4 linked regions of the Homo sapiens genome follow. The protein of the gene in region 2 purifies or fractionates together with the protein of the main gene of each other region. This does not show direct contact. Each region holds a gene or a part of one and is shown on either strand. Other genes may lie near its edges.

Region 1 (7,024 bases), on a different chromosome or scaffold from region 2:
AGCTGGGATAACAGGCGCCTGCCATGAAGCCCAGCTAATTTTTTGTATTTTTGTAGAGACAGGGTTTCACCATGTTGGCCAGGCTGGTCTCAAACTCCCGATCTCAAGTGATCCGCCCACCTCAGCCTCCCAAAGTGCTGGGATTACAGGCATGAGCCACTGCGCCCAGCCTATAAATCTTTTTCTTTAATAGTCTGTCCTTTATTCAGCTGATGTGACCATAGGCAGACATTCTAATTGACTCTATTTCATCTCAATATGTGGCAAAAGGTCAATTTATCCAAAAAACATTTATTTGAATAATTATCTTATGAAGATTTAAGATACATAACAGAAATATGAAAAACTTACTCTAGCTCGAAGATATCCCAGGTTAGACAATAATAATGGAAATACATGATTTTGTAGAAACAGCTCCATTTGGTCCTTGAATAAACTCTTCTATTAGGAAACAAATTTCAACTTATCAATTTCTTTTTCATACGTAAGAATCACTTCCTAATCAAGTGTGTTTACTATGACTTGCATTTAATATACTTCTAATTTTGTAAAATTATTTGACCTATATATTGCATGTTTTAAAACAAGACAAATATTACCTTATATCAGTTTGATATTGATTGATTTTGTAGACATAAGATACTTTGTATCCCTTTCACATATCAATAGTTTCATACTGAAAACTTTAAACAGTCAAATTTTCTTTTTAATTAAAGAAATAGATGACAGAAAGGAGGATAGTTGTGAACTCAATTATCCAGAGGTAGTCACCAGCTTTAAATTAGCCATAACTTTCATATTCTCTCATTTGCCTGTACTTTACAATGTTATTAAGTAAATTAAATTTTGATTATCTTAACCTTCAGTAAAATCTCAGCTAGGGAACCAATCACATGCAGGGCTCCATCTTTCTTCCTAGGGTCAAAGTTCGGGTCTGTCAGGATTTGATAACAGAATGCCATCATTTTTGGCAACACCTAAAGAAACAGAAGAATCCATTTAGTCTACATGAACTTTCATTGTCTTACTATAGTATTAACTATGATGCACAAATTTTTAAAAATAAAGCCATTTTATTATGTTTTATCAAGCAACTATAAGCTCAATAAGAAAAGTATAATTTATTAAGAAAACGAAATAACCATGATACCCCCTTTCCCCTCACCAGGAGAGGAAAAAAAAAATCCTTAAGGTGACAAATTATAACGAATAACAACATAATTTCTCAAATACTAGGGATATACTAGAGTATCAACTCAACACAGGCCACCTTTCAGTTTTGGATTTAAAAAGAAAAATGAAATACCTCTTTTCTTTTCTTTGCAGCAGTATATAAGAGAGTCTGGGCTGCTGTGGTGGGAGAAGCATAATCTTCAAAAATATCTAAGATTTTAAAAGGTTAAAACCATGTTAGTGAAAATATAATTACTTATTCTAGATTTTAAACCTGACTGACCGCTATTCCAAACCAAAAAAATAAAACCATCCACATATGACACTGCTTGACAGTACTAAAAAGGTAAGGATATACAGTGGCACCACAACATTGCTGTCTCCTGCACAAAACAATGTTCCTCAAACTCTACAGGTTGTCCTTTCAAACTATTATATTGAAGAAAACAATGCATTTACACATCTGTTTCACTGAGAACAGAAAAAGTGCTTTATTTCTATCAAAAAACAACAAAAATTCACTCAGCTCTTACTATGTGCCAGGTACCATTCTAGACCCCGGGGATACAAAGATCAAACAAAAAGGTTCTCACGGAGCTTATGTCGTGAAACAAAGAAACACATTATACATATATACACACATAATAAGTCAGGCTAAGAACAAATGTAAAATAGGGTAAAGAGACAGAGTGACAGAGTATGGGGTGCTAGTTTAAATAGGGTGTTAGCAAAAGCCTCTCCAACTCTGTTAAGGTAACATTTAAGCAGAAATTGAATGAAATGAGGGAGAAAGCAATCCATGGATAAAGTACTCCAAGCAGGTGAAACAGCAAGTATAAAAGCCTTGAAGGACTGCTAGGACCATGCCTGGCTCTGTCGATACGTAAGTTCAGCAGGTTTTGTTGAATATATACCTATCTAAAACTTAACATATCACTTAATACCATGAACATTTTCACAAGTTTCAGAATAGGCAGTTTTACATAAGAAACTGAAGTCTTGAGAGGTATCTGATAAGTCCTTGTTTAAATACAAAAGATAAAACCAAATCTAAGTCTACCTCAAAATATAAAATACAAACATAATAAGAACATTTTTGGAGTACTGTACTTACTCTGTGCCAAGCAGTATGCTACAGTTTTAGAAGCATCTTGTATTCTATGCTAAGCAGTTAGTTCATGTGTATTATCCCATTTAATCCTCCCAGCACTATTATCATCACCCGTTTGACAGCTGAAAGCACTGAATTTTAGAGAGGTTAAGTAACCTGTCCACAGTCACACAGCAGGTAAGTGACCAAACCAGCATTCACACCCACGCTATCTTAACATCAAAGCCTGAGCTCTTGTTAGTTCTTACCAAATCAAAAAACATTATTGGGGGAAGTGAGGAGATGTTGGTTAAAGAGTAGATAAAAAGAATAAACTAAAACATTATTATTAATCAGTCAATACATTTAGATAGGAATGCTTTGTTTCACGTAAATAATTGCAAGTGCCAAACATATAAAAAGAAAATGCAGTAATTGTTCTTCCCTATGGTTACCCAAAAGTAAAATACACATATCAAATAAAAGCCACTGCATTCCAGTCTACAGAAGGAAACGATTAAAGAAAACTCACTTCAGCTAGTCAGTCTTGAGTTACCCATATCCGCTTTTAAACAATAAAATGTAAATTCCCACTGTTAATCAACAGACATAGAGTTCTTATTTTCTAAAAACTAGGGTATGTATACCTATCTTATCAGATATGAAGAATATATAAATAATGGTAACTTTCTGAAAGCTAAACAAATACTCTGTACATCACAAAAACACATAGGTATTATGAAAGAAGTAAACACTAAAAGAATGCCTTGCAAGGCAAGAGGATCACTTAAGCCAGGAGTTCGAAACCAGCCTGGGAAATACAGGGAGACCCTGTCTCTGCAAAAAATAATTAGCCAGGTGTGGTGGCACATGCCTGTGGCCCCAACTACTTGGAGGCTGAGGTGGGAGAGTCACTGGAACAAAAAAAAGAGAGAGAGAGAGAGAGAGAAGAATGGTTGGCTAATCACTCAAAGCAAACTAGAAAAACAAAGGCATAAGAAAGGGGAAATAATAAGTTACACATATGAATAATGATTTTCAAAAGAAAAATAACAAATCAAGCAGATGATAAATGTTTCTCATTGATTTGCTTTTCTGATACTTTGTCTCCAAGAGAAAACAGGATCCTCACTTACTGAATCAAATAATATAAACACAAAGCTCTGTAAAAACACAGCCCAAAAAACTAGCATCTGTACCAGTAGGTTTAGCTTACGTAGCTAGACACACCTGGCTCAACTAAGGGGAAAGCACTGCTTCATTACAGCACTTTCAGCACGCAGCGCTAGATTTAGCAATCATTTCTTTCAACATGTATTGAAGGCATACTGGAGGCCAAGCACTAGTGGAGGAATGCAGAGGTGTAGAAGAGACAGAAAATGCAAAATTAAGCAAATAAGGTAAAATTCCTGTCCTGAGAAAGCTTCTAAGTTGTGGGAGATAGGTATGCAAATTAATATTTTGCTATGTTAAGTGCTTGAGTGTTCCATGAAGCAATTAATACAAACTGGGAATAAAAGGGAATAAATCAGGCCACCTACACAATTCAACAGTTTCCAGGAAGATCCAAGTTAAAAGGACACCCAAAGAATTGGACCACACACAGTAGGGCCCCCATACGAAATTTATTTCCCTTGTGGAACACTTAGTCTCTCAGACAAGCAAGCAAACCAAATTGGGGTACCCCTAAAATATGCAGAAATCCAAAGTATTTCCCACATGAGAACAACCCAATCTATAAATGAGTCTCCCAAAAGGCACAAAAACGGATGGTCCCTGCAGATCAGCATCGCAACAGCATAAGTAACAGATGGCTCAACTTGAGCACCCGTAAGAGAGATGAATGAGGTGGCTTTTCATCTCCCACATCCGACAATCTCCAGTTCTCTAGTTCAACAAAATAACATCAAACTCTCAAAGTTTCAGATTATGTCATGCAAAACAGAACCTGGGAGATTTAATAAAGTAATAACATTTGCTTAAAAATATAAATTTAGTTATATTACTTTACATATCCAGGAACTGATGAGAAATAAAACCATCTCAATTACCAAATTTCATCCTTATATACTCATATGGATCTTCTTGCCACAGCTCTTCATCCTCATCTTTATAACACATCACAGAAAAAATCACATCTTCAGAGATATTCTAAAATGAGAAAAAAAAAAAAACGTAACAAATGGGTATAGGCTATTCAAGTTTGAGGAATACTAATAATGTACTTGTTGACAGCCTTTATGATGTTAGTTTTCCAAACTCTGTGTGTGTGTAAAATGTCAAGTCGAGGTTATATTTACTATTATAGTTCTTATTTTGAAATTTTTTTTAACATTTCCATTTTAGTCCTAAATGTCCATGTATTAACAATATTAAAGGGCCAGGCATGGTGACTCATGTCTGTAATCCTACCTCTTTGGAAGCCCAAGGGCAGAAGGATCGCTTGAGGACAGGAGTTCAAGACCAGCCTGGGCACTGTAGCGAGACCCCATCTCCAAAAAAATACATAAAAACGTAGCCAAGCATGGTGGCGTCCATCTTGGAGGGTCTCTTGAGCCTAGGAGCTCAGGGCTGCAGTGAGCCATGATCATGCCACTGCAGTCCAGCCTGTGCAACAGAGTGAGACTCCAGCTCCAAAAAAAAAAAATTGGAATTTTCTTTACTTCTATTCCCAAAAAAACTAATTTCCTACTCCACAAATGTTTCAGTTAGAGAAAAGTCCTATCTACTAGCCTCTCTGTGCACTGCTACTAATGTCCTATTAAGCCCTTTTAGGCTCTAACAACAATTTATATAAAAACAGGATCATCTCTTACCACTTAATTCCAAATTAAATAATTCTAAGTGAAAAAATTCAGCCTAAGGATCAGCGTTTTCTTATTCCTACTTTACAGCTATGTAAAAATAAAGCCAAAGGTATGAAGTAGAGAAGAAATGTTATCACAACTCACCCTTACTTTACAGGAACACAGCAAATGAAATCAGTATCTTTATTAATTAATTGCAAAGAAATTATCACTATTTGATCAAAGTGATTAGGCAAATAGTTATTAAGATATCTACATAAATCAAAGAAAAGATATCTGTTGGTAAGACGGGTAATAACACTAAAATTCTATCCTGGACAGCAAACAGCAAAGTGAAAGATTTTTCTTTTCAGATATCATTTATAAAATTTAAGAATTCACAGTTTGGGAGAGAGTAGGTATTCAGTTCCTAAGACTGTCAAATTATCCAATTATTTGTATACAAGGAAGTATTTATTTATTAGTGGCCTATAATTTTCCATTCCCATTTGTTCTTTAGCTAAATAACAATACTGAATTCTACCTTTAGGCAAACGATATAGAAACAATGATGCTATTGAACTTAACAATCCAAGAAAATAAATAAAAACCTTGCTCATACCTACAAAATAAAACGGTCACATATCAGTCTTCAATTCCTGCAAAATAACACTACCTTAGTAGAGCCCTGGTAAGTTTTCAAAATACTTTCTCACAAAATACCTCATTTAATCCTAGCAACTTTTAGATAAGAATAGAAAAACACTATGTGCCTTAATAGAGGAGAAAATGAGGCTTAATGAGATTAAGCAAGATCAAGTGAATCCAGGTCTCCCGACTCATAAAACTTGAAGGCTTCACTTTTCTCAAATGCTTAAATTTCTAAGCCCTTTATATCTGACATAGGACTTCACTCATTAGAAATTATTAATGGTAAAATGTATATATATAAAATGTAAAATATAGGATTAGTAATACTAACTTTGTCTAGAAAACCTAATTTAACCAGAGAATAATTTTGGAGAGCTGCTCTCTGACACTAACCTGTATGTGTGGCTTCATCTGCTTCCAGGTTATAGAATGAACCACCCCTTGGTTGAGATAGTTGAATGCTTGCTGAAGAACACGGGGAGCTACATATTCTTTCTGTCTATATTGATCTAAAATTTTTAGTAGCACCTATAAGAAAACAGAAAATACAGACTAACATAAACAATTATAAGGTTAAAAGGGGGAGGTGCCATTTTTGGCATGACCTAAAATTCAGAATCCATAGAAAAATAAACAGATTTGGGAGAAAAATCAATGTTTTGTAAGAAAGCTCAGATAAACAGCTTTAATTATTAGATAGGTCCATGTTATATTGAACTAAACGGTGTCTCATTGTAACTTCCAGGCAAAGTCTAAATTTCTATTCCACTGCTAGCTCTTCAAAGTAAGTTAAAACTCCTGTTTAAAAAATTACAATAACAGGAGCCGGGCACGGTGGCTCAAGCCTGTAATCCCAGCACTTTGGGAGGCCGAGGCGGGCGGATCACGAGGTCAGGAGAACGAGAGCATCCTGGCTAACACGGTGAAACCCCGTCTCTACTGAAAACACAAAAAAATTAGCCGGGCGTGGTGGCGGGTGCCTGTAGTCCCAGCTACTGGGGAGGCTGAGGCAGGAGAATGGCATGAACCCCGGAGGCGGAGCTTGCAGTGAGCCGAGATCGCGCCACTGCACTCCAGCCCTGGGTGATAGAGCGAGACTCTGCCTCAAAAAAAAAAAAAAAAAAAAAAAAAAATTACAATAACAGATCTGACTAAAGAAACATTAAAAACTTCCATACAACAAGAGACAGCACAAAGATGTTTCTTTATTTCATAAAGACTTCTTCAAATTAGAAGAGAAAAGTTGTTCAAAAAATAGTATTGGCATAACTGATTAGCCCCCTGAAAAAATTTAAATTAACTCCCTCAACTTCACACCAAAATA
Region 2 (7,669 bases):
CACAACCTCAACGATATTCATATTCTGGCATTTGGGGCTGGATAATTCTTTGGTGGTGGTGGTTAGGGGAGGGTGTGGCAGGTCAGGTCTCCCTAACCGCTGAACAGGCAGGCCTCCATAACAACTGTCTCAGCACTGATTGAGTGGTTAAGTTAAATATTAAAAGCTGACAGAGCCAGTGCCCTCATACAAAGGCTGGAATGTAACAAAAGCCCACCAAGAATTTTGCCCAGGCCTTTTCTGGGCCTTGAGCATAACAAGATAATGAAGGAATTCTTAACAGGACCCGTTTAGGATTAAACAAGTTTTATTGGGGGGTCTGAAGAAACTCCTCTAAGCCTCCACAAACAAGTTTATTGGGGGTCTGAAGGAACTCCCCAAACCTCCATGATTTAGCAGGAGACAAGATAAGGGTAATCACCCCAGCACCTGGACCCATTTAGTTTAAATAAATTTACTGAGGCTACAGAGGAAGATCTTCAGGACTGACATCTTAGTTACAGATTGGAAGAAGTTAATCGCTTACGTCCAGATGAATGCACTCTTACATGTAGACAAATAGCTTAGAAGGTATATGAGCTCTGGAAAACTTTGTAATTTTGAGTTGGTCTGGCAATATTTTCCAGATCTTCTCCCTGTGCCCAGTTACAGAAATAAACTCCCTTCTCTCCCAGTTCACCTGCATCTTGTCATTGGGCTAAGAGAATAAGCAGCCTGACCCTTGGTTTGGTCCAGGAACAAGGGTGCATGGTCAGATGTTGAGCAGCGTCTCTAGGTTGTACACACAAGATGTCAGTAGCTCCCCTAGTCCAGTTTTGACAACCAAAAAAGGACTCCAGATATTGTCAGGTGTCTATCAGGGTGCAAAAAAGCACCAAATTGAGAAACACTGAACTAGAGCCTTCCTCCTCTGTATTCACATAGATACTTGAACAAAATGAACTTTCTCTAGTTCTTCAAGTTCACTACGAAAACCACTATGTTGCCCAATTTCTTTTTTTTTTTGAGACAGAGTCTGGATCCATCACTCAGGCTGGAGTGCACTGGTGTGATCTTGGCTCACTGCAACCTCCACCTCCTGGGTTCAAGCAATTCTCCTGTCTCAGCCTCCCAAGTAGCTGGGACTACAGGTGCCTGCCACCACGTCCAGCTAATTTTTGTATTTTTAGTAGAGACGGGGTTTCACCTTGTTAATCAGGCGGTCTCGAACTCCTGACCTCAGGTGATCCACCCGCCTCAGCCTCCCAAAGTGTTGGGATTACAGGCGTGAGCCACCGTGTCCGGCCGTTGCCCAATTTCAAAACAATTTAGTGCATTTGAAGAAGTTTATCGCAAAGCAAAAGTACACCCTGAGAGGCAGACGGAGGGAGAGATAGCCCCTAGTGTCTCAAGGGTCTCAAGACCCCCAGTAAAACTTGTTTAATCCTGAACGGGTCCTGTTAAGAATTCCTTTGTTATCACATTTATGAAGACGGTCTTGAGAAATCCTGAGGTTCTAATTTCTTTGTTTTCCAAACTTTTCCTGCATGCCTACTACATGCTACACCAATACAGGAGTTAAGAAGGAATTACTTAGGCCCAGAGCAAGGGCATGGGAGTCCTTGGTAAGGCTTTTCTTTTTAATGAAAAGCAGCCCCAAATCAGTTTCTAACAAAGAGCAGCCTGCAACCTGGGAGCTTGCATGAGTGAATGACGGCAGGAACTAAGGAATGGACATTTTCAAGATGGCCGCTCCATCTTCCCTTCTCTGTCACGTGCTGTAAGGAGCAGACAAGGTGGCACTGATCAACTGGAAAGTCCATTTGCATAAGAAGATTAGGGTGGGGTTACCAGCCTTCCTTGTGTGCTATTTAAACATTATACCCGATCAAACCAATCTATGAGCCTTATGTGAATCAGACACCACCTCCTCAAATGGGACTATAAAATTTGCAGCATTCACCACCAGATGGTCTTTTTTTCCGTTCCAAGACCCCTTCCTCTTTAGAGGAAGCAGTTTCTCTTTCTCTTCTCTTCTACCCATTAAACCTCCACTCCTAAAATCCTCGTGTGTTTCTGTGTCCTAAATTGTCCTGGCATGTGCCAGCGGAACCCCATGTTTATACCCCAAGTAACCTAGCTGCTTCAGCTCCTCCAAGAACATCAAAAGGAAGAAGATACAGTCCCTGGCTCATATGAAAATATAAACTTAGACACATTAAAATTTTAAAGAATTTATTTGAGCTGACATTCATGAATCCAGAAGTGCCAAACCACCTAGTGGGCACACAAGGAAAACTTTTATAAGGTATTCCTGGAATCAAAACAAAGAAAATAGTTTCATTTGGTTAAAGGGGAACGGTAGCCTTAAAGTTTGTAATTAGAGGTCAACTTGCAGTTTCTGATTGGTAAAGTCTCTACTTAGAGGTTAGTAGGCAGTTTCGATTGGTTAAGCCTAAGTTTCATTTTTCTAGGATATGACCATTCACTTTGAGTTAGGTTTGAATTTGCTTACTTGGAAACAAAGGCCTTGGAGCCATCTCAGCCTAATGGCTTCCCAGTTAGTTATTTTGACAATTGGGAGAGCTCAAGTTCATGGGGTAATGTTTGGGAAAGGGACAGAAATAGGTAACTTACTGAAACACAGTATGATAAGGTTCCTATAAAGATGGCAAAGGATATAAATTATGGGGATAATTATGGCCTAGGGTCTGGGGACCCAAGGGCAAGAGCTTTCAGGGATGGGAAAGAAGTTAGAAAAGGCTTCTCAGAGGAAGCCCCTTTCTAACTGCACCTTGAAGGGAAAGCAAGAGCCAGCAAGCAGAGAAGCGAGGAAAAGCAGTTTAGGTACTGATAATATCAATTACAAAGCAAGGAGGTAGAAGAGGGGCTGGCAGATGTTTAGGTAATAGCAGTCAGTCTGCTACAGCTAGGGTAAAGGGAACAAAGTCAGGTCCCCTCTCGGGAAGTCTATCTGGGGCCTGCTCTGCAAGCTGTAAGGGCCATGGAGTAAGGCCCTGGAGGGTGAACATCATCCTTCAGTCTGTCACATTAAAAAAAAAAAATCTGCACATAAATAAGGCAAGATTTTATCCAAAACAATTATTCCAATAAAGGGAGAAGAATCTTTGCAGCAGTGGAAGGGGAACTGCTGCAACAGGGAGGTGGAGACTGTTGTAATAGGGAGTGGAGGTCTCCCATGTACCATAAAACAAAACCAAAAAGTGAGCTTCTATTCTAGTGGCACAGTCAAACCATAAACAAAAATACCATTAGCAAATGATATTTAGCACAAAGTGTTTTTGTTACAGGAAAGGGGTTCTGATCCAGACCCCAAGAGAGGATTCTTGTATCTCTTGCAAGAAAGAATTCAGGGCTATTCCATAGAGTAACGTGGAAGCAAGTTTATTAAGAAAGTAAAAGAATAAAAGAATGATTACTTCATAGAGCAGCCCCGAGGGCTGCTGGTTGCCCATTTTTATGGTTATTTCTTGATGACATGCTAAAGAAAGGGTGAATTATTCATGCCTCCCCTTTTTAGACCATATAGTGTAACTTCCTGACGTTGCCATGGCATTTGTGAACCGTCATGGTGCTGGTAGGAGTGTAGCAGTGAGGATTACCAGAGGTCACTCTCATTGTCATCTTGGTTTTGGTGGGATTTGGCTGGCTTCTTTTTTTTTTTTTTCCTTTTGAGTCAGAGTCTCACTCTGTTGCCCAGGCTGGAGTGCAGTGGTGCAATCTCGGCTCACTGCAACTTCCACCTCGCGGATTCAAGCGATTCTCCTGCCTCAACCTCCCAAGTAGCTGGGGTTACAGGTGCCTGCCACCACGCCCAGCTAATTTTTGTATTTTTAGTAGACAGGGTTTCGCCATGTTGGCAGGCTGGTCTCAAACTCCTGACCTCAGGTAATCCGCCCGCCTCAGCCTCCCAAAGTGCTGGGATTACAGGCGTGAGTCACCGAGCCCAGCCTTGGCTGGTTTCTTTACTGCAACCTGTTTTATCAGCAAGGTCTTTATGACCTGTATCTTGTGCTGACCGCCTATATCATCCTGTAACTTAGAATGCCTTAGCCCTCTGGGAATGCAGCCCAGCAGGTCTCAGCCTCATTTTACCCAGCTCCTATTCAAGACGGAGTTGCTCTGGCTCAAATGCCTCTGTCATTTTGAAAGTGTAATGGGTAAGAAAGTGCGTGACGGATAAAGTGTGAGAAAAAATAAACAGGGTTAAACAAGAGGAACGGAGTCCTCAGGGTTGGAGAGGAGTGTGGTTTCATCAGCACGGGCTGGAAAGGCCTTGCTGGGAAGAAAATTGGCCCACAAACTACCCTGGCACCGCCCCCAGCTGCGGATTGGCTCAAGCCCTCAAGATCCAATTGGGCACAAAGGTTGGAGGAGGGAGTTGCAGTTGCAGTTCCTGATTGACTCTGGCAGCCGTGCATCAGCTCCCAGGGGCACACGCCTGTGGGCACAATGCTTCTGCTTCATTGATTGGCTGTAGAAAAAGCTCATGCAGCCTCTGATTGGCTATAAAATAAGCCCATGCAGCCTCTGATTGGCTGCAACATAAGCCCATGCAGCCTCTCATTGGTTGTAAAATAAGCACATGCAGCCTCTGATTGGCTGTGTAAAGTAAGCCCATGCAGCCGCTGATTGGCTGCGGGTGGATGCACTCACCTAAGGATGCGAGCTAGCAGGTCTTGCAGCGGCTATCACGCCCCTCACGCCGCTATCTCTGTGCAGCCGACTGAGGATCCCTAGTCGCATAAGGCTGTGCCTGGCCTGTTGGCGTCCCTGGCAGTTGTTGGGTTCTGGCGGTTGTTGGGTCCCTGGCAGTTGTTGGCGGTTGTTGGGTTCCTTCATTGAAACTGCACTAACTGGGCTTCCAGTCAGCGTCAGTCAGCGGATCCTTGGGCCGTGGGGCAGCCGCAGGTCGGTTAGGCCACCAGGGCGGCTCTCGTGCCAGTGAGGCCCCTGAGAGCCCTTTGGTCAGACAGAGGCTAAATCTGAACAGTCAGGCGGTGAGATTAAGCATAGTCAGGGAGTTCGCCAGGAGCCAGCGTTCCTCAGCCTCCACCACGTCAGTCACCTGGTCAGCCAGAGGGCAGCTGGGGCGACATCCATCTACCAAGAAGGTAAGCAAGCGGCCCGTGGGTTCACAATCAGGTCAGTGCCCTTATGAGTCAACGGTTAGTCCCTTTGAAAATCAGTTCATGAGAAAATCCACTCCCTTCAGAACCTGCCCTGTTCATTGGTTAGTTAGGCTCCCGCTAAGTCGGTCTCTTGGTAAGTTACACCCCTGCAAGGCACCCAGTCATTACTCACACAGTTATCCCATGTGTGTCTATCAGTTTCATTGTTAGTTATCCTGGCTTTCCCTAGAAAATCGTTTTCCTCACCATAAATAGGTCAGTCATTAGTAAGTCAGCCCTTCCCTTAGAAAGCCGAACACCTTTGCATCACTCACACCCTGCTAAGGAAATACACAGATGGAAGTGTGCTGAGAACAGAGAATATCCTGAGCCCTTTGGAACAAGAGACAGAAGGAAAATTGAGAGACATGATGGTGAAGGAAAATTGAGAGACATGGTGGTCAAGGAAAATAGGCTGGGCGCAGTGGCTCACGTCTGTAATCCCAGCACTTTGGGAGGCTGAGGCCGGGGATCACTTGAGGTCAGGAGTTCAAGACCAGCCTGGCCAACATGGTGAAACCCCGTCTCTTCCAAAAATACAAAAATTAGATGGGCATCGTGGCCCGTGCCTGTAGTCCCAGCTACTCGGGAGGCTGAGGCAGGAGAATCACTTGAACCCCGTAGGCAGAGGTTGCAGTGAGCCAAGATCGTGCCACTGCACTCCAGCCTGGGCAACACAGCGAGACTCTGTCTCAAAAAAAAAAAAAGAAAAGAAAAGAAAAAGAAAATATAATGGGTGCATGACGAGTCATCACATGTATGCTCTAAAACTGATGGAGAGAAGAAAGAAGAAATCAGAATTTTGTACTTAAATGGATCATTACATCTCCAGCAGTAAAACCCACTCATGTTACACATGAGGAAATAAGAAGAGGGAAAATACTTGACCACAGTTATTCAGTGCTTTACTGGCAAATCCTGGCCCAGGACCTAGACAAGGCTCATTCCGACCATCTAACATGGGCTTTTAAACAGAAGAAAGGGGAAGGAAAAAAAAATTGACAATGCAAAAAGAAAGTGGATATGTGGCGTGAATGAGAGAGGCATTTAACGACCTGGAAACTTGGGCGATATCTTTTTTATGTGAGAAGGAAAAAGGGCAATCAGTCTGGAGGCTAAGGGTTGGGAGCACAGACCACTCAGAGAGGTCTGTTAAAACATGCCGAAATATGGAATAGGAAAGGACAGGGCTGGTTCCAGAACTCTGGGAAGGGATTAGGGGTGGTCAAGAGTGGTCCCAGGCTGAGTGTGTTGGTTCACGGCTGCAATCCCAGCACTTTGGGAGGCTGAGGTGAGAAGACTGCTTGAGCCCAGGAGTTCGAGACCAGCCTGGGTAACATAGTGAGACTCTGTCTCTACAAAAAAAATTTTTTCATTAGCTGGACCTGGTGGCTTGTGCTTATAGTCCCAGCTACTCTGGAGGCTGAGGTGGGAGGATCACTTGAGCCTGGAAAGTCGAGGCTGCAGTGAGCCATGTTCATGCCACTGCACTCCAGACCCTGTGTTAAAAAAAAACAAAAAAAAAGTGGTTCCAAGTTAAATGCTGATAGGAGCTAAGCAGGGAACCTAATACATAGTAACTAACATTTTTTGATTGCTTACCAAATGTGAGGTTCTGTTCTACTGACTCATTTAATCTTAACAACAACTCTAAGATGGGTGCTATTATTATCCATGTTTTTAAAATGAGCAAGTAGGCCTAGAGAGAGGTGAAGCTACTTGCACACTATAAAACAGCTAACCTTCATATCTAGGCAGTTTGACTTGAATTTAAAATTTAAAAAAAAGAGAGAGAGAGAAGCTGGTTGTTTGAATTTTTTGTGAAGTGCTCTGATTATTAAATGTTATCCCATTTTAAAAGTTAGTTTTAAAAAGTAAGCATTTGTAGGCCAAACAAAATTCATTTATGATTGTTTTTAGTCTCTGAAGCAGGCTGACAGTGAGGGAAGTGACTTACCCAGAATCACCCAGGAAGTAGCGACAAAGATTAGGTCTTCTGACTTCTGGTCCACTTCCAGGAAAAATCTAAGTATACTGTGTGTCACATCAGGGCTAGCTGATTTATTCTTATATTTTATTCATGAGGAAGTGAATTTGGAGAGGAGAATGAACTTCACCATGCTTATACAGCAGTTTTTAAGGCAAAATAGAATCATGAAAAAGACACCACAGTTGTAGTCAAAGGTTGAGTCTGAAATCTATGAACGTAACGGCTGCATGTCTTGGGGCCAGTCATAGTACTTTTGTGGATCTCTGCCTTCCTTTTGGAAGTGTTGATAATGAGATGTACCTCACAGAGTTGTTGAGACTAAGATAAAAGATAAAATTTCTACGTCTCTAGAGTTGTAAATGGCAACCATAGTTTCTCATTAGATGTTAACCAAAAAAGTAGTTAACAGTCATGGCATGATTCAGTCATTCCCAATTGATTCACAGCAGGGCACAGTGGCTCATGCCTGTAATCCTAGCACTTTGGGAGGCTGAGGCGGGAGAATTGC
Region 3 (7,937 bases), on a different chromosome or scaffold from region 2:
TACATTTACACAGTTAGGCTTAAACTTCAAAATCTTCCCTATTGCTGAGATACAGTTCTCTGTAGCAATGACATTTTTTTTGGTTTTGGAATTTGCACACTTAATAACTTTTACCAGAAGTGGAACAGCTTCTGAACATAAAGAACGATAATCATCTCCACCAAACTGTGCCATGACACCCAGGCCATAAGCAGCAGCTTGCCTGACTTCAGGGTTGTTATCTCGCATATTTAGTAGCATTGGCCACCGAAAATATTCTACATATTTAAATGAAGTTGGACTGCAGTGCTCTATGATGTCATCAAATATGCACAATCCCCACTGTCTGTCTGGCCATGGCCTACTTGAACAAATTAGATTTACAATTAATGGAAGTAGTTGTTCAAACCATGGTAAAATCTTTTCCTTATAAGTACTAAATAATGAGTGCAAAATATCTGATACTTTGGTCAGAATATAAACATCACATTCATCCTCATCTTGCAGAGACATCTCAACCTGTTGATCATAGTTTTCTTCCTGTCTTTTCACCTGTCTCAATTCTTGGTTTTTAAAGTGCCCTTCAAGTTTTGCTTTCAGTATTCCTCCCAGTTCTTCCAAGTGTTCATCATTAAGGCAACCATCTCCCATAACTTCAATGGACTTTGCAAAAGAATTCATTATTTCTGAGAGCACATCTGTATCTGGTTCAGTACCAATAGCCTTGATTAAGGGGTCACATATGAATTGCCACATCTGTGCAAGATACTCTGGGCCACGAATTCTTGCACATTCCAGGAGAAAAGGCATGGACTCTGCTGCTGCCACTCGAACATTGTCATGGAAATAAAATTTCAGTAAAGGAACCATCAGCTTCACAACTTGTTCTGTATATTCCACAAACCCTTCCCTTAACTCCTTAGCATAGTAAACCAACATTTGGCAAGCAGTTGCTTTTGCTTCAAGTCCTGAAGTTTTAATTCCAAAACTCTGCTGGTCTCCAAGATTTACAAATTGCCAGCCATCATCGTCACTCATATTTTCCACATCCTGTGTGTCTAAGAGAGCAACATCAGGTTTAGCTGAAGCAGTCTTAATAAGAGGCTCGATAACCAGTGGAAGGTACTGTTGAAAATCTTTTCCAAGAATTTTACACATTCTAGCCCATGCTGAAACCATGTAAGAGGTCTGAGGGTCATCATCTTCCATATTATTTAAGTCTGATTGTGTCTTCAACAACAGCTGCATCACATTTGATGCATCTTGCATAAATTTTTCCTTCCCAACAGCAAGACCAATATGGCTAATGCACTCGATAGTTTTTCCTCTCAGAAGCTTGAGTTCCTTCTGAACAGCAAGCTCAACAATGTGCTTTAGTGAGGGCATGAATATATCATAATATGGGACAAATTTTTCTTCTATTGTATCTGCAACTGATGCAATGGTTGTCACAAGTTGTTCCAAAGCCAACTTAGTTCCATTCCGAATCAACTCTTGAAGTTTAATCACCAAGACGGAATGTAGATTTTTCACCATACTATCCACATATAGAACTAGCAATGATTTAGGGCAGTCTTCAATAAAAATAATAAGAGCAGAAGCTGCATGTGATTGCACACGCTGATTACCTTGATTTTCCATGGTACGTAACAGAGCTGCAATCACTGTTTCATGAAATTTCTTTTGGAAATTAGGTGCAAAATCTGTAGCCATCTGTCCAAGTGTAGTACAGGCTGCAGCCCTCACCCTTGGATGAGGATCCTGAAGAAAAAGCAAAACGGAGTTAACTGTTTCATCTAGAATTGATTCCATTTGTTGATGGCATCCTTCTCCAATGGCAGATAAGGCCATTAATCCAGCATGTCGATACTTCCAGTCAGGGCTCTGAAGCATCTGCATGATATGCTCCTTGGTCATTGGTAAAACAACTTTTCCACCAAGCCCACAAGCCAGTCTGTCTAGTGCACTCTCCGCAGCAACTGCATTGCTGTCAAAATCATCTTCTTCCATTTCATCAGCATTTACCCAGTCCTCATCATCTTGTAGATCAACCATCATTGCTAATATATGAGGAACTGCCTGTGCAATAATATTTGTATGTTTTTTCAACATCGGAGTGGCAGTTTCAGACAAGGTCACTATAACTTCGAGGGCCAGCTGGCGCTGCAGATTACTAAGCCTAGAGTCTCCACATAACTTCAAACTCAACTGTAGAGTATCTTCTAAATAAGGACCCAAGTACTTAGGTACGGTATCTGCAATCTCAACAAGGGATTCTAGCACTGAATCATCATCCTGGTAGCATGAGTCATTCACAGCCTGTAAGATTCCAGGAAGCAAGTCTGCAAAGTCTTTGAAAAGAGCAATATTATTCTCATTAGCAAGTACAAATGCAGCTGCAGCTCTAGCGGATAATGTCCTGATTGCTGGATGTTCTTGATCTTGAATACACTGGTCCAACAACCGTTTGATGATATCCAAATCATGCCGCTCTTGGGTCCCAAAAATCCCAGGAAAGTGCCAGAAAACGTGAAGTGCAACTTCCCATAGAACCACATTTTTGGAGTAGATTGAATCAATAAGAAACTTCAGACCTTCCGGCCAGTGGTTAGTGCCATCCTCATCTATCAAATTCCTGGCCAGCACTGCAAAAATATCACAAAGTTTTTTCCTCATGCTAGCATGTGTTTCTAACTTAACAGCCAGAATCAGTTCAATCTTGACATCTCTCTGAACATCAGCAGGCAGATTTGGATAAACCTCCTCAAACCCAGAGGACAAAAGCCGTCGTAGCAGTGCGGCAGCCATTTGTCTCACCTCATAACCTGCTCTTCTATTTCTGACGGCATCTAAGAGGAAGGTAGTCTTACACAGACCTGGGATATTTTCATAGATTTCCTCTGCTTGCCTCCGCACCATACAGCTTGGATTGATCAGGTTCTTCAGAAGCTGGTAAAACTCTTGCTTTTCTGACACGGTCGCCGGCACCCCTGCAGACGCGGTTGCCGCCATTGCGCTCTGTCAAAGCTACCGCGACCGGGAAGGAGGGAGGGGGTCTGCGGCTCGAAGCAGTGACGTAGGCGAGGCGCCGGCGGGGATGGGCGGGGTGCTTCTCCCTCCTCTGCCCAGAAACTCTAGCTGCGCTCTGGCAGGCTGCGAGCTAGGTTTTGGAGAGAGGTGAGAGCCGTGTGGAGGCCAATGGCATCCTCCATTTGTTTTTCAATAAGATAAACGTGCACTTGCAGGCGAGAGAAGAAAAGCATTGATTAGAATGGGATCATGACTTTTTTTTTTTTTGGATACAAGGTCTGGCTGTGTCACCTAGGCTGGAGTATAGCGGCGCGATCCCTGCTCACTGCAGCCTCAACCTCCTGGGCTCAAGCGATCCTCCCCGCCTCAGTTCCCCCAGTAGCTGGGACCACAGGCGCGCGCCACCACGCCCGGCTAATTGTGTTTTTTATAGAGACAGGGTTTCGCCATGTTGCCCAGGCTGGTCTCGAACTCCTGGGCTCAGGTGATCTGCCCGCCTCGGCCTCCCGAAGTACTGGGAATACAGGTGTGAGCCACTGCTTCTGGTCAGATTATGAGTGATTTTTTTCTTTTATTTCTAAACTATATTGTTACTTTGATAATTTTAAAACAATAAGTCTATCTTGAAAACATGCCAAGTGAAAGAAACCAGTCACAACCACATATTGTATGATTCCATTTGTATGAAAGGTACCAAACAGGCAAATTGTATAACAGAAATTAGTGGTTGCCAGAGGTTGGGGGGAGGGGAGGATAGAGAATGACTGCTATCAAATAGGGTGTTTCTTTCTGAGTGATGAAATGTTCTAAAATTAATTGTGATGGTTGCACAATTCTGTGATTATACTAAAAACCATTGAGTTGTTAAATTTAAATTGGTGAATTGTATGGCATATAAATAATACTACAATAAAGCTTTATAAAATAATAAGTGTGATAATAAAATAATAATTACTTCCCCACTACCACATCTAATGCAGTAGAGTGGTAGCTCAAAATCTGGTGTGTGTCAGAATCACCTGGCCTGTTGGTTATAATAAAGAATGGGAAAGACAACTGAGTAAAGTATGGTAGAAAGTGATCTGAACTAATAATCAGAAGACAGACTTGCATCCTGGCCTTGTCACTAAATTAATTTTGTATCCTAGGACAAGTTACTCAAGATTTTCCTTGCATCTTGTCTAAACTGAAATATGAAGGGATGCGGTTAACTAGAATCCTAACTAACCATTAGTGGGAAGCTGCTGAGGTTATTCCAAGAAACAAATGTTGATGAAACTAAATTTGTTTCTTTTTTTTTTTTTTTTTTTTGTGAGATGGAGTCTCGCTCTGTCGCCAGGCTGGAGTGCAGTGGTGCGATCTCAACTCACTGCAACCTCTGCCTCCTGGGTTCAAGCAATTCTCCTGCTTCAGCCTCCTGAGTAGCTGGGACTATGGGCGCATGCCACCACGCCCAGCTAATTTTTGTATTTTAGTAGAGACGGGGTTTCACTATGTTTGGTCAGGATGGTCTCGATCTGTTGACCTCGTGAGAGATCACCCGCCTCGGCCTCCCACAGTACTAGGATTACAGGTGTAAGCAACCGCGCCTGGCCAGTTTGTTTCTTTAATTCAGGCAGGTGTGTCAATCAAAAACAAGTTTCATTCCTATAACAATGATTAGGTCTTACTTTTGTATTAGCACTTGCCACACTCATTTTGACCCTTATACAGAATTGAGAGATTGCTAGGATAGATATAATACTAAATTTAGGTGAGAAGTGGAAACTAAGGGAAGTTACAGGATTTGCCTAGGATGACACACCTGAGTCTCAATTCTACCTCTTCTGAAAGTGACACTGATGCTCTTTTCACCATATTGCTTCCCCATTAACTACTCTTGGTTTTGCAGCATGATCAGAGGCTTCACTTACTGCAAATTCTGTCTTAAACTTTTCCAAGCAGCCTTAATTTTGTTTTTGTAAAGTGCTGCCGCATATACCCACAAAAATTAGAAAGTCGTAGCTTTTACATTAACCAGATGATAGACAAAGTAGGTAGTCTCATAAATTACATTGTAGCCGAGCATGGTGGCTCACACCTGTAATCCCAGCACTTTGGGAGGCTGAGGCAGGCAGATCACGAGATCAAGAGATCAAAACCATTCTGGCCAACACGGTGAAACCCCGTCTCTACTAAAAGTACCAAAATTAGCTGGGCGTGGTGGCACATGCTTGTAGTCCCAGCTACTCGGGAGGCTGAGGCAGGAGAATCGCTTGAACCTGGGAGGCAGAGGTTGCAGTGAGCCGAGATTGCATCACTGCACTCCAGCCTGGCGACACAGCAAGACTCTGTCTCATAAAAAAGACACTGTAATATGAAACAGAGCTATTTTCTAAAATAGAATTTCTCATTCTGTAGACTGAAAACCAACTGCATTAGAATTGCTTGGGATACCTATTTTAAAATATAGATGTTAGGGCCCAAGTTCCTATTAACCCAGAATTCTGGGGGGACTGAGGACTAAGAATGTACAATTTCAACCAGCACATTGGGTTTTTATATAAATACCAACATTTGAGAATCGCTGATAAGATCAATTCTGGTTCTAAGATTATGACTACAGTTGTGCATTCATTGGTTTTCTTTCTTTCTTTGTTTTTTTTTTTTTTTTAGATGGAGTCTCGCTCTGTCACCTAGGCTGGAGGGCAATGGCACGATCTCAGCTCACTGCAACCTCTGCCTCCTGGGTTCAAGCAATTCTCCTGCCTCAGCCTCCTGAGTAGCTGGGATTACAGGCATGCACCACCACACCCAGCTAATTTTTATATTTTTAGTAGACACAGGGTTTCATCATGTTGGCCAGGCCGGTCTCAAACTTCTGACCTCAAGTGATCCACCTGCCTCAGCCTCCTAAAGTACTAGGATTACAGGCATGAGCCACCACACCTGGCCCATTCATTGGTTTTCTTACTGTTCCTTCAAAAAGTCTAACTGGAGGGACTTTGCATTTGCCGTTTCAGGAAATGTTAATAATAATTAATTAATTACTTAATACTATATCCACTAGCATATGAAAGACATTGAAAAAAACCACAGTGATACACCACCACAGACCTACCACAATGCTTTAAAAGTCTGACAAAGCCAAGGGTTGCTGAGGATGTGGAACAACAGGAAACTCAGTTATATTTTTGTTGAGAGTATAGGTAAATTGGTACAACCTCTTTGAAAAAAATGAGCTGGGCGCAGTGGCTCATGCCTGTAATTCCAGCACTTTGGGAGGCTATTGGGAGGCTAAGTTGGGCAGATCACCTGAGGTCAGGAGTTCGAGACCAGCCTGGCCAACATGGTGAAACCTCGTCTCTACTAAAAATACAAAAAATTTAGCTGGACTTGGTGGTGTGCGCATGTAGTCCCAGCTACTCAGGGAGGCTGAGGCAGGAAAATTGCTTGAACCCAGGAGGCGGAGGTTGCAGTAAGCCAAGATCACACCACTGCACTCCAGCCTGGGTGACAGAGGGAGACTCCATCTCAAAAAAAAAAAAAAAAGAAAAAAGAAAAAGAAAAAAATGTTTGAAAAATTCTGGGTTAAGATTATGCAATTATTTGGCCGGGTGCAGTGGCTCATGCCTGTAATCCCAGCACTTTGGGAGGCCGAGTTGGGCGGATCACAAGGTCAGGAGATTGAGACCATCCTGGCCAACATGGTGAAACCCCATCTCTACTAAAAATACAAAAATTAGCTGGGCGTGGTGGCGCGTGCCTATAGTCCCAGCTACTTGGGAGGCTGAGGCAGGAGAATTGCTTGAACCCGGGAGGCGCAGGTTGCAGTGAGCCAAGATTGTACCACTGCACTCCAGCCTGGTGACAGAGCGAGACTGCGTCTCAAAACAAAAAGAAAGAAAAAGAGTATGCAATTATTCAATTAGTCTCTCAGCAAGCATTCTTTGAGGGTACACTCAAGCATGGTGCTGAGTTGCTGGTATTAAAGACTAAATTCATGAAGATATGTGAATCTCATAGTAAACAGAGATAGTAAATGTCACATAGCGTAGTGATCACTGTAGTAATGATAAGCCTGCCATGGAGCCATATGGGGTTATGGAGGCAGCTAATTTACTCTGGGTATGGGGTTGATCAAGTAAGGCTTCCCAGAGGAGGTATCAGAGTTGACTTTTGAAGAATGAGTCCTCATTAACCATTTGAAAAGAGAGAAAGTTGTTCTAAGTAAAGGGTACAGCTTTTTCAGACACAGAGAGGCCTTCAGGTGTACTGTGATGAGAGTTCTGCCAGTGTTTCAGTAATGCTGGGGCGGTGAGCATGGGATTTGAGGGGGTCTGGGGATGATACAGGAAGCTGGAAGGAGGAAGACAGAAAGTTAAATAAAGGCCAGATCATGAAGGGTATCATATCTGTCAGGCCTCTAGCCCAAGCTAAGCCATCATATCCCCTGTGACCTGTACGTATACATCCAGATAGTCTGAAGTAACTGAAGAATCACAAAAGAAGTGAAAATGGCCTGTTCCTGCCTTAACTGATGACATTCCAACACAAAAGAAGTGAAAATGGCCTGTTCCTGCCTTAACTGATGACATTACCTTGTGAAATTCCTTCTCCTGGCTCATCCTGGCTCAAAAGCTCCCCCACTGAGCACCTTGTGACCCCCACCCCTGTCAGCCAGAGAACAAACCCCCTTTGACTGTAATTTTCCTGTACCTACCCAAATCCTATAAAACGGCCCCACCCCATCTCCCTTCACTAACTCTTTTCGGACTCAGCCCGCCTGTGCCCAGGTGAAATAAACAGCCTTGTTGCTCACACAAAGCCTGTTTGGTGGCCTCTTCACACAGACGCAAGTGAAATTTGGTGCCATAACTCGGATCGGGGAACCTCCCTTGGGAGATCAATCCCCTGTCCTCCTGCTCTTTGCTCCATGAGAAAGATCC
Region 4 (7,024 bases), on a different chromosome or scaffold from region 2:
AACAGAATTTTATTATAATGGAACAGATGGAACAAAAAAGATGAGACTTTTAGCAAAGAGGGAATGATCACTAATAAACTGCTGATTTTATTAGAAAGTTTCAAAAGAAGAAAAAAATGAAATTGTAATTTAATGAATAAACATTACATGTACAATATACCATTTGGAGGTTACTTTTGTTTGGTGAGTCTACAAATAAACTTCATTGCTATTGATATTCATCTGTTAATAAAATTCTCTTTTGATTATATTTAAATTACATATCTATAAGTAGACCTCAAAAGTAAAACAAACAAAAACCCCAAAAGCTTTCTACTCTATGGTAAGGGATTGATTACCCTTTGTTGTTTAGTAACTCCTGGTTTTTACCATTTGGGAAAACTGGGGGAAAAAAAGGAGACAGAAAGGCAAAGGCAGAAATCACGAGAGATATAATAATAAGAGATGAAGACAGAAACAGAGATAAGGCTGTTAATATTTAATTTGCTCTTTATGAGGTACAATTTACAATATGACACAGTTATTTCCTGTTTTGTCAAATACACAAATGCATGGAAATTCTTTAAAAATTAAAAGAAATAAGTTTAACTGAAAAAGTATTAATATATAAGCATGACTCATTAAAAGCTGATAGTCCAATCTATTTTACAATACCTTCCAGATAACAGTGTGCCAGGTTGAATGCTGTAATAAAGTTCCATGCGCACCAATTGTAGAAAACAGAGTTTGCCCTGCACTCTTCCTGACAGCAGGACGGGGATCCACACATAGTTCACCCAATTTTGCATAAAGACATAACCACAAGCAATCAAATGGCGGTGCAGGGTGGAATGGCCGATTTAAAACAACTCCTTTCTCTTCTGCCTGCTTTTGCTGTGCTGCCTCTTCCTTATTTAGTTCTTTTTCAATAGTTTCCCCTCTTTGGAAAAAATAATCTGAAATATTCCACTAAAAAGCAAAGTAGAAAAATATTAGTTCATCCAAGGTTTTGTTTTAAACACATAAATATGCAACATGTGGCTGTTTTACCTTTCAGAGTAAAACTTTAAAAACATTACTTCAAAAATCTCTTTCCTAGTAGAATAGATTCAATGAAAACATCTCTTCTTCTGTCAGTGTCTCTACATTATTTCAGGAGAAAGTGGGGAAACAATCTTGAGCTAACTTTTTTTTTTTTACTTTTTTATTATAAAAAATGTCAAGAACATACAAAAAACCAAGAATAGTATAAGGAACTTGAACATATTGATGTATCTACCACCTAAATATAACAACTGTTAACTATAAAAAAAAACTATAATATCATTATCACCCTAACAATGTTAACAATTCCTTAATATTGTTTAATAAGTTTGTAATTTCATACACGAGCAATTACTGTTTCCAAACATATCTTATATTAATGATAATTATGCCAATGGTTAAAATGTAGAGAATCCAGTACTGTGAACATAAATGTAAAATAAAGGAGGTGCTATCCAGCAGTAATTTAAGCAATGTTGCACTAGCCACCCACTTGCAATCATATATGCAACATGCTTACATTTTTTCCCATGTAAAAATGGGAAAAATAATAGTAATAGTAAAATACAGTTGTCCCTCGGTATCCGTGGGGGATTGGTTTCAGGACCTCCCACTGCATACCCAAATCCACAAATCCTCAAGTCTGTTATATAAAATGGTGTAGTATTTGAATATAATCTACACACATCCTCCTGTATACTTTGAATAATACTAGGTAACTTTTAATACCTAACATAAGGTAAATGCTATGTAACTAGTTATACTGTATTTAGGTAATATTGACAAGAAAGCCTGTACATGTTCAGTACAGATACAACTATCTTGTTTTAAAAAAAAATTTTCTATTTATAGTTGGTTGAATCTACAGATGCAGAAGCCACAAATATTAAGAGCTGAACGTAGGAAGAGATGAATGTAGTAACTTATCTAGCTTGTGAGGAAAATTTAAAGTTCAAATTTATAAAACTTCTGAGTTTTAATATACATTTAAAAGATTCTAAATAATTGCCTTAAAATATATGTTGAAAACAATTCTGTGCATGTTTATTTCATGTAATGTTAACAATTCTCTAAGATTTCATTACAGAGATGCCTTGTTTTATTGCACTTCTCTTTGTTGTGCTTCACAGATAATTGTAATTTTTATAAATTGCAATTTATAAAGGTTTGTGGCAACCCTGCATTGAACAAGTCTGTTGGTACCGTTTTTTTCCAGCAGCATGTGATCACTTTGTGTCTCTGTGCCACATTTTAGTAATACTTGTAATATTTCAAACTTTTTAATTATTACTATGTCTGTTATGGTGATCTATGATCCGTGATCTTTGATGTGACTATTGCAACTATTTTGGGGTGCATGAGCCGCACCTATGTAAGATGGCAAACTTAATGTGAGTTTTCTGACTGTTTCATCGTCAGGTTGTTTCCTCATCTTTTTACTTCTTCTCAGGCCTCCCTATTTCTTGAGATACAACAACAGTGAAATTAGGCCAATTAATAACCCTACAATGACCTGTAAGTGTTCAAGTAAAAGGAAGAGTCGCATTTGTCTCACTTTCAATCAAAAGCTAGAAATAATTAAGCTTAGTGAGGAAGGCATGTCGAAAATCAAGACAGGCCAAAACCTGGGCCTCTTGTGCCAGTGAGCCAAGTTGTGAATGCACAGGATAAGTTCTTGAAGGAAACGAAAAGTGCTACTCCAAAGAACAAACAAACTATAAGAAAGTACATCATGGCGGGCGCCTATAATTCCAGCTACATGGGAGGCTGAGGCAGGAGAATCACTTGAACCCAGGAGGCAGAGGTTGCAGTGAGCCAAGATCATGCCACTGCACTTCAGCCTGGGTAACAAGCGCAAGACTCCGTCTCAGAAAAAAAAAAAAAAAAAAAAAAAAAGAAAGAAAGAAGAAAGTACAGCAGGCTTATTGATGGTATCAACAAACTTTCAGCTGTCTGGATAGAAGGTCAAACCAGCTACAAGATTCCCTTAAGCCAACGCCTAATCCAGAGAAAGACCCTAATTCTCCTCAATTCTATAAAAGCTGAGCAAGGTGAGGAAGCTGCAGAAGAAAAGTCTGAAGCTAGCAGGGGCTAGTTCATGAGGTTTAAGAAAAGACGTTATCACCATAACCTACAAGTACAAGGTGAAGCAGCAAGTGCTGATGTAGAACCTGTAGCAAGTTATCCAGATCTAGCTAAGATCACCGATGAAGGTGGCTACACTGACCAACAGATTTTCAATGTAGACAAAACAGCCTTTTTATTATTATCATTTTTTTTTACAGAGACAAGGTCTGGGTCTGTTGCCAAGGCTGGAGTGCAGTGCTGTGATCATAGCTCACTGCAGCCTCCAATTCCTGGGCTCAAGCAATCCTCCCATCCCAGCCTCCCATGTAGCTGAGACTACAGGTGTGCACCACCATACACAGCTAATTTTTAGTAGAGATGGGAGTCTCATTTTATTGCCCAGCCTGGTCTCAAACTCCTGGCCTCAGCAATCCTCCCACCTCAGCCTCCCAAAGTGCTGGGATTACAGGCATCAGCTACCATGCCCAGCCTGAAACAGCCTTGTACTTGAAGATGTCATGTAGGACTTTCATGGCTAAAGATAAAAAGTCAATGCTTGGCTTCAAGGCTTCAAAGTACAAGCTGATTTTCTTGTCAGGGGCTAATGTAATTGGTTCACATAAAAGTCAACTGAAGATTTCCCTTGTATATACTATTGTTTACTAAACCCTTTCATGACAAACCCTGTAAAACCCAAACTTCAGCTCAATGTATGAAAATTATTTCAAACATTTTGTTATTAATATTTAAGTGATGTTATTTAATCCTTCACCCAGACGTAAGTTTGAAATTTAAAAGCCATATAAACAATTTGCAAAGAGCTAAAAGTATATTTGCTTAGCATTCACTCCCAACTGAATAACAATGATTTCTAAATTATATTATATTCTAAGGACAATGATACTTACCAATAAACCTATTGAAGTTAAACTAATATTGAGTTCTTGGTTATGGAGGCCAAAGCTACCTGCAACATCTACAACTATTTGCAGGCAAGTACAAGGCATTGTTGGTAGAAAATCTGTCACAACCAACTGAAGACACTGGAATGCAGTTCGTATCAAGGATTCTCTGAAAACAAAAGAAATGTATACAGATGCACTTATTTTATTTATTTATTTATTTTTGAGACAGGGTCTCACTCTGCCACTCAGGTTGGAGTGCAGTGGTGCGATCATGCCTCACTCTCAACCTCCCTGGATCATGTGATCCTCCCACCTCAGCTTCCCCAGTAGCTGGGACTACAGGTGCACACCCCCATGCCCTTTTTTTTTTTTTTTTTGTGGAGACAGGGTCCCACTATGTTGCCTTGGCTGGTCTCAATTTCCTGGGCTCAAGTGATCCTCCTGCCTTAGCCTCCCAAAGTGCTACGATTACAGGCATGAGCTACCACACCCAGCCTTACTTATGCATTTAAAAGAAATGTGTAAAAATACATATCTTACAATAATTTGAAGTAAAATTTTATTTCAGAATTTAAACAAGAAACTCCTAATATTGATCATAAAGTATTTTAACATTTACATAAATGTAAAAAAGACATGCTTACTTAAACAAATTAACAAAAACAAAGAAAGAAGCTTACAGGCAATAAGAAATAAAAACAAATTTAAAAATAAAGTATTAACATCATATTACTTCTATTTGTATTTCATACCAACTAACCAAAGAAAACTTAGACAATAAATGAGAATGGCAAGTTTGCTACAGTTATTTTTCTCCTCACTGTATCCCTGATATCTAGTACAGTGTCCAGTACATGTAAATACACACAATTTACTGAAAAAGAGCTCCTCATTCTTTTATATCCGTACTGTATCTTATTTAAATCTCCAAAGAAATATAAAAACCCACATCCAGTCAGTGAGAAAAGAGTAAATTTTGAATTTCAAATAAAGATAATAAGAAGTATTTAGTTTTGGAGAAAAATCCTGGTGGTAAAAAATAGTAATGAAAATGATAAGTATAATTGCTAATACTCTGAGTGCTTAGTATGTCACATACTTTCTAACTGTTTTACACCCATTAATTCATTATACCCTTACTACAATGCCCTATTTAGTACACCACATTATAGGTTGGGAGAAGACACTTAAGCTTGATCTAAGCTGATTCTTCAATTTAAGCATCTCAATATTTTGTAGTAAAGAATTTTATTACTATAAATATTTAAGAAAAATTAACTTTCCATAATATTCTCAAGCATCTTGGTCGTCTACAACTTCCGAACTAGTCATCAAAACAAAAGTGTGATACTGCAGAATTACAGAAAAATCTATCCAATGTCTGTCTGCTTAATCTCTCCACTGCAATCTCCTACCCCAAAAGTTAAACAAGTCCATATGTCCCCTCCAAATTTGCTCTTCCTTGTCTTTTCCCTATTTAGTTAATGATACTACCATCCCCCACTAAACTGCCTAAGTCAGAAATCTAGAAGTCACTCCTGATTGCTATTTTCCCCTATGCCTCGCTACAGTCAATCCGTTAAGTAGCTCAAATCCATCTCTTATTTCTAGTGAGCACTTGTAGCCATTCTCATTTCCTACCTTCCCTTCCATGCTGCTGTCACAGTGATATCTATAAAATTCATATGTGATTAAGTCATTCCTCTGCTTAAAATCCCAAAATGTCTCCCACATGAATTTTGGATAAATTCAAATCATTTATATAACCATATAAGATCTCCTTCATAATTTTGCCTCTGTCCTCCTCCTGCTGAAGGTTTCTTATTTTGTGGCATAACAAACTACAGTCATGTGTTGCTTACTGATGAGGATATGATCTGAGAAATGTGTCATTCGGCGATTCTGTTGCTGTATGAACATCACAGAGTTTACTGACACAAACCTAGATGATATAACCTACTACACACCGGGGCTATATGGTATATTATTGCTCCTGGGCTACAAACCTGTACAGCTTGCTACTGTCCTGAATACTGTAAGCAATTGTAACATAATATAAGTATTTATGTACCGAAACATATCTAAACATAGAAAACGTACAGTAAAAACAGAGTATTAAAATCTTATGGGACCTCCATCATATATGTGGTCTGTTGTTGACTGAAACGTTAGGCAGCGTATAACTATACTTTCTCACTAGGATTCTATGTCTAGGGCAGGAGCTATTTACCTGTGTAATCAGAATAACTACCATGTATAGTATTTGAAATACACTCTGCACAGAATAAATGTTTAATAAATTAAAAAGTAATGAAAAAGTTACTTTAAAGCAATTTCTGACTGCCTAATATATATAGGGAGGTCAAGCCCTAAATGCTAATTCACATCTTATCAAATAATTTAACAAAACACAACAGCCCAATCTTTGGATGTGTTATAAAATTTGTTAATTGTTTCAAGTATCTTATAAGTAAGAATCATGTATTCTTGCATGAATGTTAAATAAAGAGCAATTTTTCCATCTTTCCAAACCAAAGGTGATCCCTAAAAATTGCCTGTAGCCACTTAGGGGTAGAGTTAAGAAAAACTATTACAGATCTTAGCCTTAAGCAGGAAGCGCATACATGAAAAAAATAACCACTATTTCAAGATTTTAGGATGGAGTCCTTCTCTACCTCTATCACTTTTTTGATGTTAATTTTATTTTATTTATATTTTATTTTTCATACATATTTTTTCTCAAATAATTTTAAATACTTACCCTTGATCATTTCTGATTGCTCCCATGACTCCAAGCACTAATGGCCATCCAGGCCCAAGACTGTCTCCCTGACTCTGCAGAATCTGCAACACGCATTCTAACTGCTTGAGTCGAATATCTGGATGATTAATATTGGACATCTCCTTTAACGGGTTCAATAAAAGCAACTGCAGCCTCTGAAAAGGGGGCAAGAAACTAATTAGGAAGAGAAGTCCAAAAAGACAAGAAGGCTTTACTGTTGCTTTTCAAGTTTAAATTCATCGCCATT

What was found.
Region 1: the proteins of SIGLECL1 (region 2) and IPO8 purify together in Homo sapiens (co-immunoprecipitation; 3 studies listed by BioGRID and IntAct, with this or other methods). This does not show direct contact.
Region 3: the proteins of SIGLECL1 (region 2) and RANBP6 purify together in Homo sapiens (co-immunoprecipitation; 3 studies listed by BioGRID and IntAct, with this or other methods). This does not show direct contact.
Region 4: the proteins of SIGLECL1 (region 2) and MON2 purify together in Homo sapiens (co-immunoprecipitation; 3 studies listed by BioGRID and IntAct, with this or other methods). This does not show direct contact.

The regions. Positions count from the first base shown.
Region 1 is NC_000012.12:30,664,869-30,671,892, forward strand, and holds part of IPO8 (importin-8), read right to left. Parts: intron 6,229-7,024; coding exon 6,094-6,228; intron 4,415-6,093; coding exon 4,315-4,414; intron 1,384-4,314; coding exon 1,307-1,383; intron 978-1,306; coding exon 861-977; intron 442-860; coding exon 352-441; intron 1-351. UniProt on the Homo sapiens protein: Involved in nuclear protein import, either by acting as autonomous nuclear transport receptor or as an adapter-like protein in association with the importin-beta subunit KPNB1.
Region 2 is NC_000019.10:51,246,432-51,254,100, forward strand, and holds the start of SIGLECL1 (SIGLEC family-like protein 1), read left to right. Parts: upstream 1-4,648; 5' UTR 4,649-5,114; intron 5,115-7,669.
Region 3 is NC_000009.12:6,012,617-6,020,553, forward strand, and holds the start of RANBP6 (ran-binding protein 6), read right to left. Parts: upstream 3,009-7,937; 5' UTR 2,992-3,008; coding exon 1-2,991. UniProt on the Homo sapiens protein: May function in nuclear protein import as nuclear transport receptor.
Region 4 is NC_000012.12:62,546,805-62,553,828, reverse strand, and holds part of MON2 (protein MON2 homolog), read right to left. Parts: intron 6,933-7,024; coding exon 6,757-6,932; intron 4,162-6,756; coding exon 3,999-4,161; intron 949-3,998; coding exon 655-948; intron 1-654. UniProt on the Homo sapiens protein: Plays a role in regulating membrane trafficking of cargo proteins. Together with ATP9A and DOP1B, regulates SNX3 retromer-mediated endosomal sorting of WLS away from lysosomal degradation.